Linked DNA regions of Homo sapiens. The protein of the gene in region 5 interacts with the protein of the main gene of each other region in a pairwise test. Each region holds a gene or a part of one and is shown on either strand. Other genes may lie near its edges.

Region 1 (2,873 bases), on a different chromosome or scaffold from region 5:
AATTTCTGTAGTAAATAACGTAAGGAAAGAAAAAGGCAAATGTAGACAAGAACTTCAAGATACATGCTTTGCAATCACTCATTAATATTATTCTCCAAGTCAATATACCTGGTATGTAGTATAGTCACATAATCTTATCATAAAAATTCCATTTATTTCTATCTCAATCTAGGCCAAACTTAAAAGTCACTTGTCCTGGTCAACTCGGCTGGACATGATCTCCTCTTCAGAACTCCTGTTACATTCTGTTTACAGTTGTCTGATGCTACATATCATAATCTGCTTTCATTGCATTATAATGCCTACCCATCTACCTTGTTTATTTACAAGCAATGGAAAAGCAGAAACTATCTCTTACTCACTTTGGAATCCATCCCAATACATGGCAGAGTAACTTCATCACTGCAGGTATTAAATAAATGTTTATGAGAGAATAAAACGTTCAAACAAAACTCTAGTAACAAATATCACCTAGTTCGTACAATGTTCAAATTTATGCTCCTTGAGAATAGGATCACTATCTCATGACCCAGATGCATATAGTAGGCACTCATTAAATATATTTATCAAACTCTACTGTTGACTGTGTGGACGCAATGCTGGATGATGACATCTTTCTGTGACCAATCCTCAATGGTTTGAGATGTGCCAGATTATCTCTGATTAGGACAACCACTGACAGACTAGCAGGCTGTTGGCGTTTTAAAAAAACAAACAATCAAATTTCACCTGTTGATTAATTTAAAAACTGTGTATAGATTTTGGCTTATGAACGAGTCAATGAATTCATTGTTCAAGGAAAACATTATACCTTAAACGTAAATGTAGCAGTGATATTAATATAACTCCCGGTAATAAGTTTTCTTCATTTCAAATTAAATTAATGTCATACATCAATGGCATTACGTATTTACCTCTACATATTAGACTTTTGATGCTACTGCCTGATGAAGCACTAAATTGCCTATAACATACCAATAAGAGGCAAAAGGACTCCCTCCTCTCGTTTAAAAAAAAAAGGACTTTTTTTTTTTTTTACCTTTTTATTTTTCTTAGAAAAAGGGTCTCATTCTGTTGCCCAGGCTGGGGTGCAGTAGTGTGACCACAGCTCATTGTAACCTTGAACGCCTGGACTCAAGCAATCCTCTCATCTCAGCCTCCCAAGCAGCTGGGACTACAGGCACGTGGGACTACAGGCACGTGCCACTACATCTGGCTAATCTTTCTATTTTTTGTGGAGATGGGGCCTGGCTATGTTGCCCAGGCTGGTCTCAAACTCCTGGCCTCAAGTAAACCTCCCACCTTGGCCTCCCAAACTGTTGGGATTATAGGCATGAGAGGCATGAACCACTGTGCCCAGCCACTTTAATGTTCTTTTAACAAGAATTTCCTACAGAAAACACAAACCAACAAAGAAATTAATTCCAATAAATACATTGTCGTAGAGATTGTGATATATATAGTTAAAAAACCACTTTTGTTACCTATCAATATATGTTTATCTACTTATTTCTAGATCTATAATTGAATAATTATACTAAAACTATAAAAATACATGTTTATTTAAATTAATAGTAAACACTGTTATCTTTAATTTATGAGGGACCTGCAGGTCTTCGTTCAATAAATTTCCAAATGGCAAATACTATTGTGTACATACATTCATTACAAATAAGTTTAACTTCAGTTCTATGTGTAGCAAGTTTCAAACAGGATGACAGAGTCATCATTGTGCTATGAGAAAAGTTACAAGTTTTTCACAACTTCTACAAGTGATTCTATGTTGACCAAATTATTTTCTGGAAGCTAACTACATCCTTTTAAAGGATAAGTTAATTCAAAGACTTAGGATTGTATTCATTCATTCTTAGACCCTAGCCAACAATTTACATTGATATTGCCTCAATGACAAAGAACACCTGGTACAAAAGTGACTCGCATGACCTACTGAATCATATTATTCATCATATTCCCAGTCAATGGCCTCTCAGCACCTACTCTGGATAGGTCAGCAAGCTTCTAATCAAAACAGCTTTGACTGGTGCTTTTGCCTAATTTCCTGAGTTCTGATGATCCCCTGGCTCAATTCAGCTTATTCATGATCCTATTTATATTTATAATTGTGTACAGGCTGCTTGTAACTGCAATCCTGCTTAGTTGTTCTTCTCTTGACTTACTTTCTTGAATCAATCCTTTCTTCTAACTTTGTGGCAGGTCAGTTGTTACCGATAGCCTTTCCTTGTAACACCTAAGCAAGAACAAGAGAGAAATTAGATGGCCCCTTCTACAACGGCTTTGTGCCTTTTTGGAACATGTAACTGTGGATGATACTTACTTAGTGTAAAATTGCTGTCCAAAATTTTTTGAAGAAAGAGAAGATGCAGCACAATTTGTGGTAATAGAAACAATGTAGTTTTGAGTCTAAAATTCAGATTTTTCTCCATTCCATGTGGTTAGACCTCTCTATTATATTCGAATGGAGATAAAACTCTTAATTATTTTCATTCTAGAAATGATGTTTAATAAAGCATATTACACATAGTGGATGCTAAGTAAATATTTCTTACCAATCGTTTTAGAAAAGCAGTTTAATTTCCCTTGCTTTAAAATAACAGAAATGAATCATTCTGGCAATGTGGGAAAATTCAGGATAGAGTATGACTATATTTTTGTGTGTACATATATATGTGTGTATATGTATCTTTATATATACATTTATAGAGAACCATTGAAATTATAGATGTTTCAAATGGCCCCAAAATGCAATGAGGAGGAGATACCTAGACAGACAATAAAGATAGTTTAGCACTTTAAATTTGGATAACTTCATTGATAAAGGCTATCACACAAGCAACATGCAACTAAAACTGTAA
Region 2 (3,602 bases), on a different chromosome or scaffold from region 5:
GATAAAATGAGAATCAAAAAGTTTTGTCTACTGCAAACTGCTGCACACTTAAAATGCTATCACTTGCCAGGCACAGTCACTGGAGGCGTGCCGTGTGGTAGTCACATTCCCCACGTCTTAGAGGACAGTGTCACATCCTAGCAGCTCTAGGTGACATCTATTCCCACACACAGATAGCATATTCCATCTGGCTTCTGTCACACCAGTGTCCAGATGAGCTGCACACAGACATTGCTGGACGTGAGCTGGCAGGGGCTTGGCAGACCTATCAGTTCCTTTTGAAACCCACCCATAGATGGTAAGCTATAGCAGCTGGAAACCAGAAGGCAGGTAACTAAAAGGAGGTGCTATCAGTAGTTAAGGTGTTACTCTTTTCACTTTTCAGTCATTATCTTACTTTTTTCACATTACCATAGCACTAGCAATTCAAACAATTAAAAAGCATCATAGTGGCATTTATAAAAGACCCATTTAGTCTAGAAGACTATTTTACTGTTGTTGAAAAGACATCTATTATTAGTAAAATTCTTCCAAGGCAAAATGTCTTCTTTAATTATGCTACTGCAAATTTAAAGCATATGAAAAGCACCGTAAGAATTAGGAAATCAAATGGGAAAGTGTATATAAAATACACATTTATAATTTTTAAAACTCAGTATAAAAATAAGGGCAAGGGCATTGAGGATGAGTTTCTCCTTAGTGAAACAGTCTTATGAAAACCAGTTAAAAATAAATAATTAGGCAGAGAATAGCATTACCATTTGTATTTCTTCTGGGGATAACTCATCTTCGCCTTTGCCATCTCCCCACGTTCCCAATTCAGGTTGTGTTTCAGCCAAAATTTTTTCTGTTAAAAAAAAAATTGAAAATAGAAGACCAAATATGTGTTTTAGAATAGGCTGGCTTAGGATGTAGTCATAACACAAACAAGAGATTAAACAGAATCTTACAGCTTTGTCTATATATTTCATGATCTTTGGGCTAATATTCAGGCACTGCAGACATGATTCTTTCACAACATTTAGGCTTTAAATTGTCTTTGTGCAGGCACGTGCATGTGTGTGTGTGATGGGGAGGGGGACCTATGCACGGTTTCAGTATCGCACTGATGTCAGCAATGGCTGCAAACTAAATGGACATTATTCAGAATGTCTTCAGAATTCTTCAGAATGAGTCTTAAAGTATGTTTTACTTCAAGACACATACACCCCTGTCTACTTTTAAAGACTGTAAGACATATTTTTATTGTAAAAAATACATATGCATATATACATACATATATATATATATACAGGAAGTGATATACTGTTCTCCAATCCTATTCCTCTCCCAGATGTTACTGCTTTGATGTAGCTTCATAGATTTTATCTAAAGATATTCACATACAAAGATATATGAGTCCCTGTCTACCCATGAAATTCAAGTAATACACAGTTTTGTGTGTATGGCGGCTTGCTTTTCACACAGATATCAATAGTAACATGCTGTTCTAAAACTTGCTTTGTATGATTTATTGATACATCTTGGAGATGGTCCAAGTAGATCTACCTTGTTCTTTTAAATTGCTGCATGATATTCCATCGTGAGGATACACTGGTCTTTAGCCATAACTACGCTGACAGACCTCAGTGGTTTCAGACTGTTCACTGGTGTCATGGTACTGTGTCCCGGTCTGTGCTATGTGCACATGCTGGAGTGACTCTCTAGGACAGATACCTGGGCATGCAACTGCTGAAAGGGAGCGTAGGAACATTTTAATCTGGAGAACTTTTTCATTATGATCAAGGAAAGGTGATGCATCCTCCATTGAAGCATGTCAATACCACAGGCCCCTAGAAAGGACTGCTGCCGCCCAGGATGACGGTAAGAGGTCTGTGCAGTTCATCACCGGGGTAGGGTTGGGAGCGGAGGGGAGAGGGATGGCAGGGATGGATCCTCGGGGGAGACTGTAATGAAGTCACTTTGTGTCTGTGTCTCAGGGCTTATCAGTGAGCTTCCAAGTACTCAAAGGCAAATACTGCTTCTTTTTCCTTTTTTCCTCAATCTCAGTAAATTTCCTGTAGTCAGTCTCAGCCCCATGAGATGGCAACAAGTCCAGATCTTTAAATAGGGGAAGAGAACGTAATGATAGCAACAATGTAGAGAAAGCTCACTAGGCAGGCCATGCCTGAAAGTTATGGTTATTTATTAGAAATATATCTTTACAAAAAAAACTGCATGTCATCCACAACTTAGTGCATGCAGGCTTTTAGAAAAATGGCTGTTTTTACCAGAAGTGTCATTATAGAAAAACATGTGTTTGTAAAAGGTTGGCTAAAAGTATCTTTAGAAATGATCTGATATTTTCCTGAGATGACATTCTTTGGGTAGGAACATTTGTACTTTCATCTACCCCCCACCCCCACCTTATGAGCTGTCTCCTACTTGTCCTCATTATGGTATCCATTTCAAGCTTTTACTGTTGTTGATTTCTTTTTTAAGGAAAAAAACATCAAAATTAGAAACAGAAACCTTGTTCATATCTGAACCAAGCATAAATTAACTCTGAGCTAGAATGGGAAAGTTTTCTTAGCAGAACTCACACTCTACAACATGCTCATTTGTGGCCATCAGAAGCCTTCTTGATAGGCTGCCCTAAGGATCAGCCTGAAGCACAGCACCCACCATGCCAGTCCTCTGCCCAGGCCACCCGTGCACCCTGGTGCCACAGAGGCAAGTCCAGACTCCCTACTCTGGCATTCAAGGCCCTACCCACCCTTCCAAGCTTACTCCCACCTCTCCTCCCACTGATGGGCTTCACTGATCCCCACGGGTCTTCTTTACTGACTATATCCCACCCAATCTCCAGGCTTTCTGGCCTCTGAGCATTTGCTCATGCTGCTGCCTCTGTCTAGAACTTTCTAAGCTTTCATTTTTTATTTTTTCAGGTCCAGACTCACTTTTTTTTTTTTTTTTTTTTTTTTTTGAGACGGAATTTCGCTCTTGTTGCCCAGGCTGGAGTGCAATGGCACGATCTTGGCTCACTGCAACTTCCGCCTCCCAGGTTCAAGTGATTCTCCTGCCTCAGCCTCCCCAGTAGCTGGGATTACAGGCGTGTGCCACCACACCTGGCTAATTTTGTATTTTTAGTAGAGATGGGGTTTTTCCATGTTAGGCTGGTCTTGATGTCCTGACCTCAGGTGATCCAACCCGCCTTGGCCTCCCAAAGTGCTGGGATTACAGGTGTGAACCACTGCGCCTGGCCCAGACTCACTTCTTAGTGCCACCTCCTCTTGAAGTCTCCCTGGCCCTCTGCTCTCTCTTGAGGTACTACTTACTTTCTCCCAGGGGCTAGAGCCTTATCTTTCCCATCAACTGTGAGCTCCCTGAGGGCAGGAATCACATCCCTGAAACTTATTGAGCTCCAATGTGACACCCAAAGGAAATACTCATTGGAGCTTTCCAGATTTTAGTTTTCAGATTAGAGATGCTCAACTGGTAAGGACAATGCAAATATGCAAAAATTTGAAAAAACCCTAAATCCAAAACACTTCTGGTCCCAAGCATTTCAGATAAGAGATACTCAACCTGTAATTTCTGTGACATGTCCAGGACCATGCCTA
Region 3 (3,602 bases), on a different chromosome or scaffold from region 5:
GCCAAGGATGAACTAAAAGCCTGGGGGAATGAAAAGATACATGGAATAATCAGGAAGAGATGGGGCAGAGTGGCAGAGATGGAGAAAAAGAAATATTGGGACAGGAAGCTTTTTTCTCACATTGTGTAAACTAGTGTGCGAAATTAAAAAGTATGGGAGGAAAGAGGAAATATGGCATGTACTGAGCGCTCAGTAGGGTGATAAATGTTTTACTACTCATTAGCTCATTTAATTGTATTCTGTACAACTCAGTAAATTTGATCTCATCTCCATTTTACAAATGAAGAAACTCAAATTTAGTAAGGCTACTTAACTTTTTAAAGACACACTGCTAGGAGGGGTAGAGTCAGAATTTAAACCAAGATATTTTCTAGACTTTTAATCTCCAGGGATTTTTTTAAGTAGGTAAAGTGCTCCCCCAATGTTATAGGGGATCATGGATGAGCGAAGACAAACTGATGCTGAAGATGAGATCAGCAAACAGTAGCTCCTGGTCCAGATGACCTGGAGAAGGAGTAGGCATAGGATCTAGACCAGGGTTGTTCAATCTTTTGGCTTCCCTGGGCTACATGGGAAGAAGAATTGTCTTGGGCCACACAAAAAATACACTAACAGTAAAGATAGCTGATGAGAATGAAAAAAAAATGTGTCGGGCTACATTCAAAGCCATCCCTGGCCATGGGTTGGACAGACCTCAACAGGCACATGGATTCCCTATTGGGGAGGGTCTAGAATTCTAGGCTGAGGAATTTTCACCTTTATTCCTCTGGTATGATTTCAACCTGTGGTGTCACCATTTTTAAATGTATTGCCATATCTTGAACATTCCCACTTGTTCTGTCTACAATAAATCTTGACTGTGGGGTTTGCTTTTCCCTATCTCAATTAGGGAGTTGCAGAATGCAAACTTTTTTTACTCTACGTCTGTGAAAAACAAAGAAGACATATATATATTTATTTACTTCATTTTAAAAAGACCAAGAAAAATAAAGTTTGATTTTCCACCATTTCTTTTTGCTATGTAAATTTGCCTTTATTCTGGAGTAAATAATTAAGATTATAAAATAATCAAATTATGCTCACCACACTATCTGGAATGTCTTTTTTGCTTCTCAACTTCCAGGAAGTTAAAAAAGTAACAATTCCTCAAAACCCAGAGCTAGTTCTAGTACCCATTTGGACATCATCATTCCTTCTTGTGAACCTTTTTTACAGCATTTTGTACATGCCTTAGTACCTTATCACACCCTGCCTGGTCTCTTGTTGTCAGCAGCTTTCTAAGATGGAGTGAAGCTCACTCTTCACTGTCTATACTGTGTACCAATGAATAACATTTTTGCACTGAGCATCTAACAAAGTCACGTAATTTAATAGAATGACTCAATAATTTTTTTTGCATGGTACAGTATGCTTCCACCACTTTCTTTTGCTTAGGATAGAACATCATCAATAAATGGGGATCTATTTTCCCAAACTTCACCTTCTAGTCTGCTCTCCCTCCTGCCCGCCACTTCTCCTTTGTGGTTGGGGTCTTTTTCTTTAACCTTTAGGATGGTCAAGTTCAAGCCAGAGAGGCAGAAAAGTTAGTCTAGGTACCACTGAGGGAAGCTGAGTTTCTGGCTCTCTTTCACAGTGTCCAGGAGAAAGACAACCCCAAATAAGGTGCAAAGGGTGAGACTCTACTATTTAATTTTCATAACCTATAGGATAAAATCATATTCATTCATACAAATCACTATGGCCTAATTTTCTATTATAAATCTTCCTAATAATATGACAAGGTCTCAGCAGCCATATTTCTCGTCAGAGAAAGTAATGAACATACTAAAAATAGTTTACTCTCATTCTGATTTAAAATAGGTGCATCATGTCATTCAAACTACATCTGCTTATATTCTATCCATATGTTTGAAGGCTAAAATAAGTAACAAATCATTAAAAAGAGTTTTTGTTTTAAAATTGTTGGCTCAAAAATAGTTACATAAAACATACTTCATAGCTGGCAATGCAGACATTCTTAACTTTTGCCCTGAGTAAATAATATTACCTCTGTTGATCCTGTGAAGGCTACTTTGTCTATATCCATGTGAGAAGAAATGGCTGCCCCTGCTGTAGGCCCATAACCAGGAACAATATTCACTACTCCAGGAGGAAACCCTGCCTAAAAGATAAAAAGTTTAAAAGTTACAGTATAAGAATTTAATTCAAAAAGGAGGAGAGTAGGGGATTGAGATTGTCTCTTAATGCCAACCTTATGAGATGCTCTAGAAAAAAATAATTCACCCAACTGGCTCTATTCTTTAGTCTTATTATGTCATTTCTAAGCACACATAAGAGAATAACTTCAAGGGTTGCATTATTAAAGGACAATTTCTTGTCAGGGTAAGTCCATACTCTATGAATCATTGCTCCAGTGATGGCTCTTTCAAATTTCATAATGCTAACTCAAAAAGATTGTATGTAAAAAAGTGTTTGGTAAGTTACTTATGTAGAAAGTAAGTAACATGTTTATTATTCCCATCAGCAAAAATAAGAAGCTGAAGGGATCTAACATTTTTTAGTTCCTAGCTGTTGTTGATTGTTGAGGGCATAACTGCTGAGTTGCAAATTCCCATTGGCATTACTTAGTAAATTGTTAAGTAAATACTGTCATCCCATTCATGATTCAACATCACAGGTTGATTTCAATCTTCATTAAAGAATTCAGGTGAAGGCATGGGAACTGAGTTGGGCACATTACAATTTCATGTTATTTGCATCGAAATGTTTCATTTTGACATCTCTTTTCCCTGTTTTTAATTTCAATAAATAATATCTTTAAAAGATAAGTTCAGTTTTGTAACTTTAAGTTTCTAGTGATTAACATTTATTTTTTAAGATTTGGTAAGATGAAGAAAAAAGGACAATGAATTGTTTGCAAGTATATTAACACAATCTAGATAGCTGATGAAAATGTTTTACATGTTCTTTTACTGTTTTTGAACAGGAAGATAAATGCAGAGGAACTCATAATAGAAAACTGAATATAAACATATCCACTCATGAGTAGATTGAAAAGTGTTTGGAAATAATGTGGCCCAATATTACAAACAAGCATATTGGCATAGAGGCCCTTTCAACCTTACATAGATTAGTTTACACAATTTTGCAGAAAACACTAGGCCATCAGTGGCAGGTACAAACCAACTTAATGTTTCAACATTTGAAAGAATGCTACATTAATTTCAACATGAATTTATGTTCATGAGAGTTGGACAAAGAAGCAAAAATGTGATCCCAAGTTGACTGTTTGACACCAAACCTTTGTGTTTGGCTTCCTGTCTGCATTTGGGCAGAGATGAATTTGGGGTGACTGCCAGAAATTGCAGCCAGCCGTCATGCTAAATGTATTCCCCCCACTGGACAGGAGCCATCTGTAAATAATGTACTTTATAGTAGCAACAAATGAGGTCTTCCTATTGTAATTTAGGATTCTTGAGTTCTTGAGCATATTTTGATTTCGGGAGACTTACCTCTTTTATTAAAGATGCCACGTGGAGAGCAGTGAGAGGAGTTTGCTCTGCTGGTTTGACAACCACTGTGTTTCCACAGCTCAGTGCAGG
Region 4 (3,602 bases), on a different chromosome or scaffold from region 5:
TTGAGCAAGTTGCTTAACTGCCCTGAGCCTCATCTGTAAAACAAGGATTCTGAGCATATCTATGTTATAGATTTGCAGTGAGGATTGAATAAGGTGATGGATGTTAAGTGATTAACACAATGTCTTGCACATAGTAAACATCTGATAAATTATTAGTAAATTACTAGTATCAAGTGAAGACATTTTGCTTCGTGTTTTATTTTTATTTCTGTACCACTATTGCACATGATTTTCTTTTTTCCTTACTTTTTTTTTTGAGATGGAGTCTCATTCTGTCACCCAGGCTGGGATGCAGTGGTGCAATCTTGGCTGACTGCAATCTCTGCCTCCCAAATTCAAGTGATTCTCCTGCCTCAGCCTCCCAAGTAGCTGGGATTACAGGCAACCACCACCATGCCTGGCTAATTTTTGTATTTTTAGTAGAGGCGGGGTTTTACCATGTTGGCCAGGCTGGTCTCAAACTCCTGACCTCAGGTGATCCACCTGCCTCAGCCTTCCAAAGTGCTGAGATTACAGGCATGAGCCACCATGCCTGGCCTGTACATGCTTTTCATTCTTCTTATCTTCAGACCTAGAAACAGCAGCTACAGGTTCTCAGCATGGGTCCTGCTTCCGTGTTTGGTAGAACCTGGGTTGGGGCCTATTGTGTGTAGGTGAGGACATATCCTCTGTGGAGAGGGGCCACCTGGGGAACGAAGATGCTGAACAGAAGTTGCTGAAGCCCTCTGAACCATTCAGCTCTCTAAGGAACCTTCTGATATCTCCCCACAGGTGGACCTGGCCTCTCAGGTCCCTTGGTTTGAGCAGCTGGCTCAGTTCAAGATGCCCTGGACATCTCCCAGCTGCCAGAATTCTTGTGAGCTGGGCATCCAGAACCTAAGCTTCAAAGTGAGAAGTGGGCAGATGCTGGCCATCATAGGGAGCTCAGGTACCGGAAAGGCAAATCGCTGGGCAATGGTTTCTCTCCTGGGATACAGAATGGTCCTTTGGACAAATGGATGCTTCTTATGGAGCTCTTTGCTGACTAGTAGAATAATACAGCAGAATGGCTGAGAACACAGGTTCTGGGTCAGACAGACCTGGGCTCAAATCCTGGCTCCTCCATTTGCTGGCTTGAGGGTAGGTGCTGTTGTTAAGAGTCATGAGTGCGCCTCTTGTCCACCCGAGGCTGTGGCCAGAGCATCTGACTTTGGCTAACACCTGGACGGAGAGATCAGCAAACAGCTCCAGCATGTAATGTTCTTTTCAGACTCCTCCAGCCATGAGGGGCATTGGTTCAGGTTGTTCCTCCACAATCACATTCTGATTATGGCCAGACAGCCCCTGCCACACTCTCACCTCTCAGACAGCCTCTCCAGTGTCTTACTTAGCACAACTTTCACTCATCTGCAAAGAGCCAGGTTCTTGGAGTGCCTCAAATTGTCATTTCCATGGCCAAATTTAAAATGAGAGAATGTCTGAGCTGAAAGGGGGCTTGGGGAACAGAGGTCATTCTCATCATGTTCCACCTTTCTTTCTCCCTACCAGTTTGGAAGCATTTTCAGAGGAAGGTGTTCAAACTCCCTACTCCTCAGTGTGTCTAGAGTATCCTCCTGCACGCGCGCGTGCACACACACACACACACACACACACACACACACACTCCCCTCCATTTGACAGATGAGGAGACTCAAATCCAAAGAAATTGAGGGATTCTCGTAAGGACACATATTTAATGCAGAGCTAGAACTAGAACTTTGGTTTCATCATTCTCGGATCAAGACATTTCTCCCTGGGACACCCTTACATAGTGCTGGAGAGAGCATTTTATATCTTTTAATTAATCATTTCCAGAGGTAGAGATTACTCAATTTTTTAAACATTCTGCTCCAAACTTTTACACCCGTCTGGTAGATAAGTTCTGTTTACCGTATAACCAAAGATCAAATGAAATCTTATGTATAAATGCACTTTGTAACTGAAACAGCATCACAGTCATGAAGTCCCTCTCACTCTGTCCCTGTCCCTGCAATCCTGACCTAAATAAGAAAAAAGTAGATCCCGGCCAGGCACAGTGGCTCATACCTGTAATCCTAGCACTTTGGGAGGCCGAGGCGGGCAGATCACGAGGTCAGGAGATCGAGACCGTCCTGGCTATCACGGTGAAACCCCGTCTCTACTAAAAATACAAAAAATTAGCTGGGTGTCGTGGTGGGTGCCTGTAGTCCCAGCTACTTGGGAGGTTGAGGCAGGAGAATGGCGTGAACCTGGGAGGTGGAGCTTGCAGTGAGTCGAGATCGCGCCACTGCACTCCAGCCTGGGCAACAGAGCACGATCCCGTCTCTTAGAAAGGAATGAATAAATTACACTGAATAGTCTCCTGTTTTGTTTTTTTTGTTGTTGTTGTTTTGTTTTTTTGAGGCAGTCTCTCTCTGTTGCCTAGGCTGGATTGCAGTGGTGTGATCTCGGCTCACTGCAACCCGCTCCTCCTGGGTTCAAGCGAGTCTCATGTCTCAGCCTCCCAAGTAGCTGGGATTACAGGTGGGTGCCACTATGCCTGGCTCATTTTTTTTTGTATTTTTTGTAGAGATATGGTTTTGCCATGGTGGCCAGGCTGATCTCCAACTCCTGGCCTCAGGTGATCTGCTTGCCTTGGCCTCTCAAAGTGCTGGGATTACAGGCATGAGTCACTGCACCGAGCATCTCCTGGTTGTTTATAGATTCAGTGTTGTTTGGCTTCAGGTTTACTTGCCTGTGTAAAAAAAACAAAAACAAAAAACAAAACAACAACAAACAACTTTAGACAAATAAATAGTAGAGTTGTCTGAGCAAATAGTGATTAATGAATCTGGCAGCACTCAAAAACAGGACCAGTTCAGAGGCTCCCCCAAGCAATTTGGTCAGGCAGTATTTATAGACAGAAAAAGGAAGTGCCCTACAGAAATAGCTGATTGGTTACAGTTGGGTGTTCACCTTATTTATTTGAGGGTGATGTGATCAGGTGTTGGGTATGGACAGGAGCTCATCAGTCGGTAGCCTGTGATTGGCTGATGCTTGGCTGCCATGATTGGCTGAGACTCAGCAACTTGTCTCAGCCAGTCTCTGTCTTAAGAGAATATACTGCTAAGATAAGTTGCAGTTTGTTTACATACTAAGTTTGCTTGCAGTTTGCTCTGTGGGAACTCAAAGTATGCAGGCAGCCTCAGGCCAAATTTAGTTTAACTGAGCAGCTGAAATTATTAAAATGATTTATTAGAAAGGTTCATCAACTACACTTCCTGTGACTTTTACTGCCATCCCCCTCTCCCCCTGCCCAACATACACACAAAAGAACGCTGGCCATAATTTTTAAAATACAAAGAAAACAGCCAGGCTGGGCACGGTGGCTCATGCCTGTAATCCCAGCACTTTGGGAGGCTGAGGCAAGTGGATCACCTGAGGTCAGGAGTTCGAGACCAGCCTGGCCAACATGGTGAAACCCTGTCTCTACTAAAAAAAAAATACAAAAAATTAGCTGGGCGTGGTGGCACGTGCCTGTAATCCCAGCTACTTGGGAGGCTGATGTGGGAGAATCGCTTGAACCCTGGAGGTGGAGGTTGCAGTGAGCTGAGATTGCACCATTG
Region 5 (3,913 bases):
AGACAGACAACCCCATGGTGAGTTTCTCAGTTCTCTGCAAGGAGTCGGGAGTCCTTTGAGTTACAGAAGCCTGACAGGGCCAATTCTGTAAGCCCCTGGGGTAGGACAGAGGTCAGTGATTTCTCTAGTTCTCAGGGGGATCCCCCCAAAATGGGGAAACAGACATGCAACCAGAAGAAAAAGAAAGGGTTTAGGAAAGGGGATGGAGACAGAAGAGGAAGAGTCTGGGTAGGATCCTTTCGGATCCAAAAATTCTGCAATTCCAAGAATTGCCTTAATTCCCAGAACAGCCACTTAAAGGCCTCTCAGGCAGAGGCTGTGCCAGGCGAGGGCGAGGCCAGGAAAGGCCAATCAGAGGCCAGGAGGGAGGGGCAGTGTGTGAGGACTCCTGGCTGGTGTCAAAGGACCCAGGACAGGGAGTGGCCATTCCAGCTAGGGACACAGTGCTTCCCAGCCTTCATTTTCTCTTTTGACAGAAGAGAGGCCAGTCTCACCATTTGACAGGTGAGGAAACCCAGGCCCAGAGGAGTAATTGACCAGAAATTAACGAGAGTTTAGGATTCTTCATTGTCAATACATGGTTCTTCCCAGGCATGTAGCAAAGGGGGAAAAATCCAGGCTTTAAAATTCAGATAGACCTGAGTTCATAATTCCAAGTCCTACAGGATGTGGCTGTGTGACTTTAGGCAAATTACTTAATGTCTCCGAACCTCAGTTTTCCGGTCTGAAAAAAAGGGGATCATTAATAGTATGTCCTATTGGGTTATCGTAAGGATTAAATGGAGCAAAGCCTATAAAACACTTCTCACAGAATAGGAGCTCCAAACACAGCAGAGATGTTTCCAGGATTTTCTGAAGCCAACACACCAGGTCTGTGCTGGGCTGAGGGCCGACTGCCTGGTGTTGCTCCTGCCATTTGCTCCCTGGGTTCTAGAGCTGATGGTGGCCCTATTCCTGGTTCCAGTCATATCAGGATTCTATTTGTCCCTCTCAGCAGCACAGGCCTCCAGCAGCATCCTGGTAACTCAGAAGGCATCCAATAAGCATTGATTGAGTTAATATGTAACTTGTATGGAAAGAGGAGTTGGAGGCAAAATCTGAAGGATTTCCAAGGTAGACTGTAAGATTCTGGGCCCAGGCTTCCGTGTGATCCCAGAGGAGGGTCGGCCTGGGGTGGAGGTCAGGAGATGGGTGGAGGATTGCAAGTTAAGGAAAACTTTGGTTTTTGTTTTTTTGAGACAGGTCTCACTCTGACGCCCAGGCTGGAGTGAGATCATGGCTCACTGCAGCCTCCACCTCCCAGACTCAAGAGATCCTCTCACCTCAGCCTCCTGAGTAGGTGGGCCCACAGGCACAAGCCACCACACCTGGCTAATTTTTAATTTTTTGTAGAGAGAGGGTCTTGCTGTGTTGCTAGGCTGGCCTAGAACTCCTGGGCCCAAGCAATCCTCCCACCTCGGCCTCCCAAAGTGCTGGGATTGCAGGTATGAGCTTCTGCACGCAGCCATCAGGGAGGAAGAGAAGGAAACATCTAAGCTGAGCCTCATGAGATGGGGTCGGGGGAGGAATTAAAGTCATCTCAGACAGAAAGGACCAGAAAAACAGAAGCTTATTTAAGGGCAGGTATGAGAGACAGATTTCAGCCCACATGAACAGACTTGCCCTGAGATAGAATTAGGCAACCTTTGCCGGGTGGTGTGGCTCAAGCCTGTAATCCCAACACTTTGGGAGGCCAAGGCAGGCAGATCACCTGAGGTCGGGAGTTTGAGACCAGCCTGGGCAACATGGTGAAACCCCGTCTCTACTAAAAATACAAAAATTAGCCAGGTGTGGTGGCCCACACCTGTAGTCCCAGCTACTAGGGAGGCTGAGGCATGAAAATCGCTTGAACCCAGGAAGCGGAGGTTGCAGTGGGTCGAGATCACACCACTGCACTCCAGCCTGGGCGACAGAGAGAGACTCCATCTCCCAAAACAAAACAAAAAAATTCAGCAACCTTTAAATGTAGCAAGTTCCCCCTCCATAGTGGTATTCAAACAAGCAGAGGCAATCCCACTGTTGCGTGGGGAGAGTTGGGCCAGAGGTCCTTAAATGTCCTTCCGGGTCATGGATTCATTCTGTGGCTGTGATTAGGCTGGACTCAAGGGAAGGGGATGGATACAGGTCCCCAAGGGTTCAAGCTGGTCGTAGTCTGACGTGCATCTGTTCCTGCTCTATCAGGTACTTCGGTCTTCTGTGGATGTCCTTGGGTCCCCATGAACCACTGACTCCAAGTTCTGCAGTGTGGGGCTTATGTGAAAGGGACAGGGGAAAAGGAAACAGGCTCTGCCCGGGGCCCAATCTCAGAGTTTTCTCCCCCGACATCTGTTGAGTCTGCATGTGGGCAATGTTTCTTGCTAGCTTCTTCGTGTATTCACTCTCTCTGGTTCCCTTTCATCATAAAACCCTGCTGTTGCCCAAGTTTTGGCTACCACGTGGCTAAGCAGCTCAATGCTACATTTCCCAACCTCTCTCGTAGTTGGGTGTGGCCATGTAGCCACATTCGGAGCAGATGTGATGTGTTCTACTTTTAGATTATGCCCTAAAATTGAAGAGGTGTGGCCTCCTCTGTCTCTTCCACACTCTTTCCACAGGCTGAGATGCAAACGTGATGGCAGGTATTGGAGTAGCTATTTTGGGCCTCAAAGTGGAAGCCATGTTTTGGGTGTGGCAGAACAGTGAGTAAAAATAGCTGGAATCCTCAACACAATGGAGCTGCCATTTGAACCCAGGAGGACTTGGGGCTAAGTAAGAGAGGAGTAACTTTGTATCCTGTTTTGATTCTTCATAATAGCAACCCAAACCTGTATCTCAATCAACAAATAATCTCAGCTCCAACCACACTTCCTGTTTGCCCCATATTTTTCTTCAACTCTGGTCCTGAGACATAGCACTGAATAAGAATCTCCCTCCCCCATCTCACTTCCCAGAACCCTGTCCCACAGCCCCCTTGGCCTGGGGACCCACCTCATATCTGAAGACAATAAGATCCCTGAATATGAGCCCTGAGTGAGCTAGGGCAAATCCCTTAATATTTCCTTCCCTCCTTTCCTCCTTCCCTCCTTCCCTCCCTCCTTTCCTTCCTCTTTCTTTCCCTCCTTCTCTCTTTCTTTCTCTCTCTTTTTCTTTTTTTGAGATGGAGTTTTGCTCTTGTTGCCCAGGCTGGAGTGCAATGGCGTGATCTTGGCTCACCACAACTTCTGCCTCGAACTCGAACTACTGACCTCAGGTGATCCGCCTGCCTTGGCCTCCCAAAGTGCTGGGATTACAGGTGTGAGCCACTGTGCCGGGGCTCGCTCTTTTCTTTCTTTCTTTCTTTCTTTCTTTCTTTCTTTCTTTCCTTCTTTCTTTCTTTCTTTCCTTCCTTCCTTTCTTTCTTTCTTTCTTTCTTTCTTTCTTTCTTTCTTTCTTTCTTTCTTCTCTTTCTCTCTCTTTCTTCTTTTTCTCTCCTTTCTCTCTTTCTTTTCTTTCTTCCTTCCTTTCTTTTCCTTCCTTCCTTCTTTTTCTCTTTCTTTCTTTCTTTCTTTTTCAATACATGGTTTCACTCTATTGCTCAGGCTGCAGTGCAGTGGCACCATCATGGCTTACTGTAGCCTCCAACTGGGTTCAAGGGATCCTCCAACTTCAGCCTCTGAGCAACTAGGACTACAGGCATGAGCCACCATGCTTTGCTAATTTTTAAATTTTTGTAGAGACAGGGCCTTGGTATGTTGCCTAGGCTGGTCTCGAACTCCTGGCCTCAAGCGATCCTCCCTCCTTGGCCTCCCAAAGGCTGGAAGGCTGAGGTGGGCAGATCATTTGAGGCCAGGAGTTTGAGACCAGCCTGGCCAACATGATGAAACCCCATCTCTACTAAAAATACAAAAATTGGCCA

What was found.
Region 1: the proteins of NUPR1 (region 5) and NPY5R interact in a two-hybrid assay, tested with the Homo sapiens proteins (one large-scale study listed by BioGRID and IntAct).
Region 2: the proteins of NUPR1 (region 5) and STX18 interact in a two-hybrid assay, tested with the Homo sapiens proteins (2 studies listed by BioGRID and IntAct).
Region 3: the proteins of NUPR1 (region 5) and ALDH1A1 interact in a two-hybrid assay, tested with the Homo sapiens proteins (one large-scale study listed by BioGRID and IntAct).
Region 4: the proteins of NUPR1 (region 5) and ABCG8 interact in a two-hybrid assay, tested with the Homo sapiens proteins (one large-scale study listed by BioGRID and IntAct).

Annotation. Positions count from the first base shown.
Region 1 is NC_000004.12:163,346,827-163,349,699, reverse strand, and holds part of NPY5R (neuropeptide Y receptor type 5), read right to left. Parts: intron 2,464-2,873; exon of another isoform or gene 2,336-2,463; intron 2,249-2,335; 5' UTR 2,178-2,248; intron 403-2,177; exon of another isoform or gene 375-402; coding exon of another isoform or gene 363-374; intron 1-362. UniProt on the Homo sapiens protein: Receptor for neuropeptide Y and peptide YY. The activity of this receptor is mediated by G proteins that inhibit adenylate cyclase activity. Seems to be associated with food intake. Could be involved in feeding disorders.
Region 2 is NC_000004.12:4,434,012-4,437,613, forward strand, and holds part of STX18 (syntaxin-18), read right to left. Parts: intron 848-3,602; coding exon 759-847; intron 1-758. UniProt on the Homo sapiens protein: Syntaxin that may be involved in targeting and fusion of Golgi-derived retrograde transport vesicles with the ER.
Region 3 is NC_000009.12:72,921,972-72,925,573, forward strand, and holds part of ALDH1A1 (aldehyde dehydrogenase 1A1), read right to left. Parts: coding exon 3,513-3,602; intron 2,162-3,512; coding exon 2,048-2,161; intron 1-2,047. UniProt on the Homo sapiens protein: Cytosolic dehydrogenase that catalyzes the irreversible oxidation of a wide range of aldehydes to their corresponding carboxylic acid.
Region 4 is NC_000002.12:43,845,384-43,848,985, forward strand, and holds part of ABCG8 (ATP-binding cassette sub-family G member 8), read left to right. Parts: intron 1-771; coding exon 772-928; intron 929-3,602. UniProt on the Homo sapiens protein: ABCG5 and ABCG8 form an obligate heterodimer that mediates Mg(2+)- and ATP-dependent sterol transport across the cell membrane.
Region 5 is NC_000016.10:28,532,165-28,536,077, forward strand, and holds the end of NUPR1 (nuclear protein 1), read right to left. Parts: 3' UTR 544-3,913; downstream 1-543. UniProt on the Homo sapiens protein: Transcription regulator that converts stress signals into a program of gene expression that empowers cells with resistance to the stress induced by a change in their microenvironment.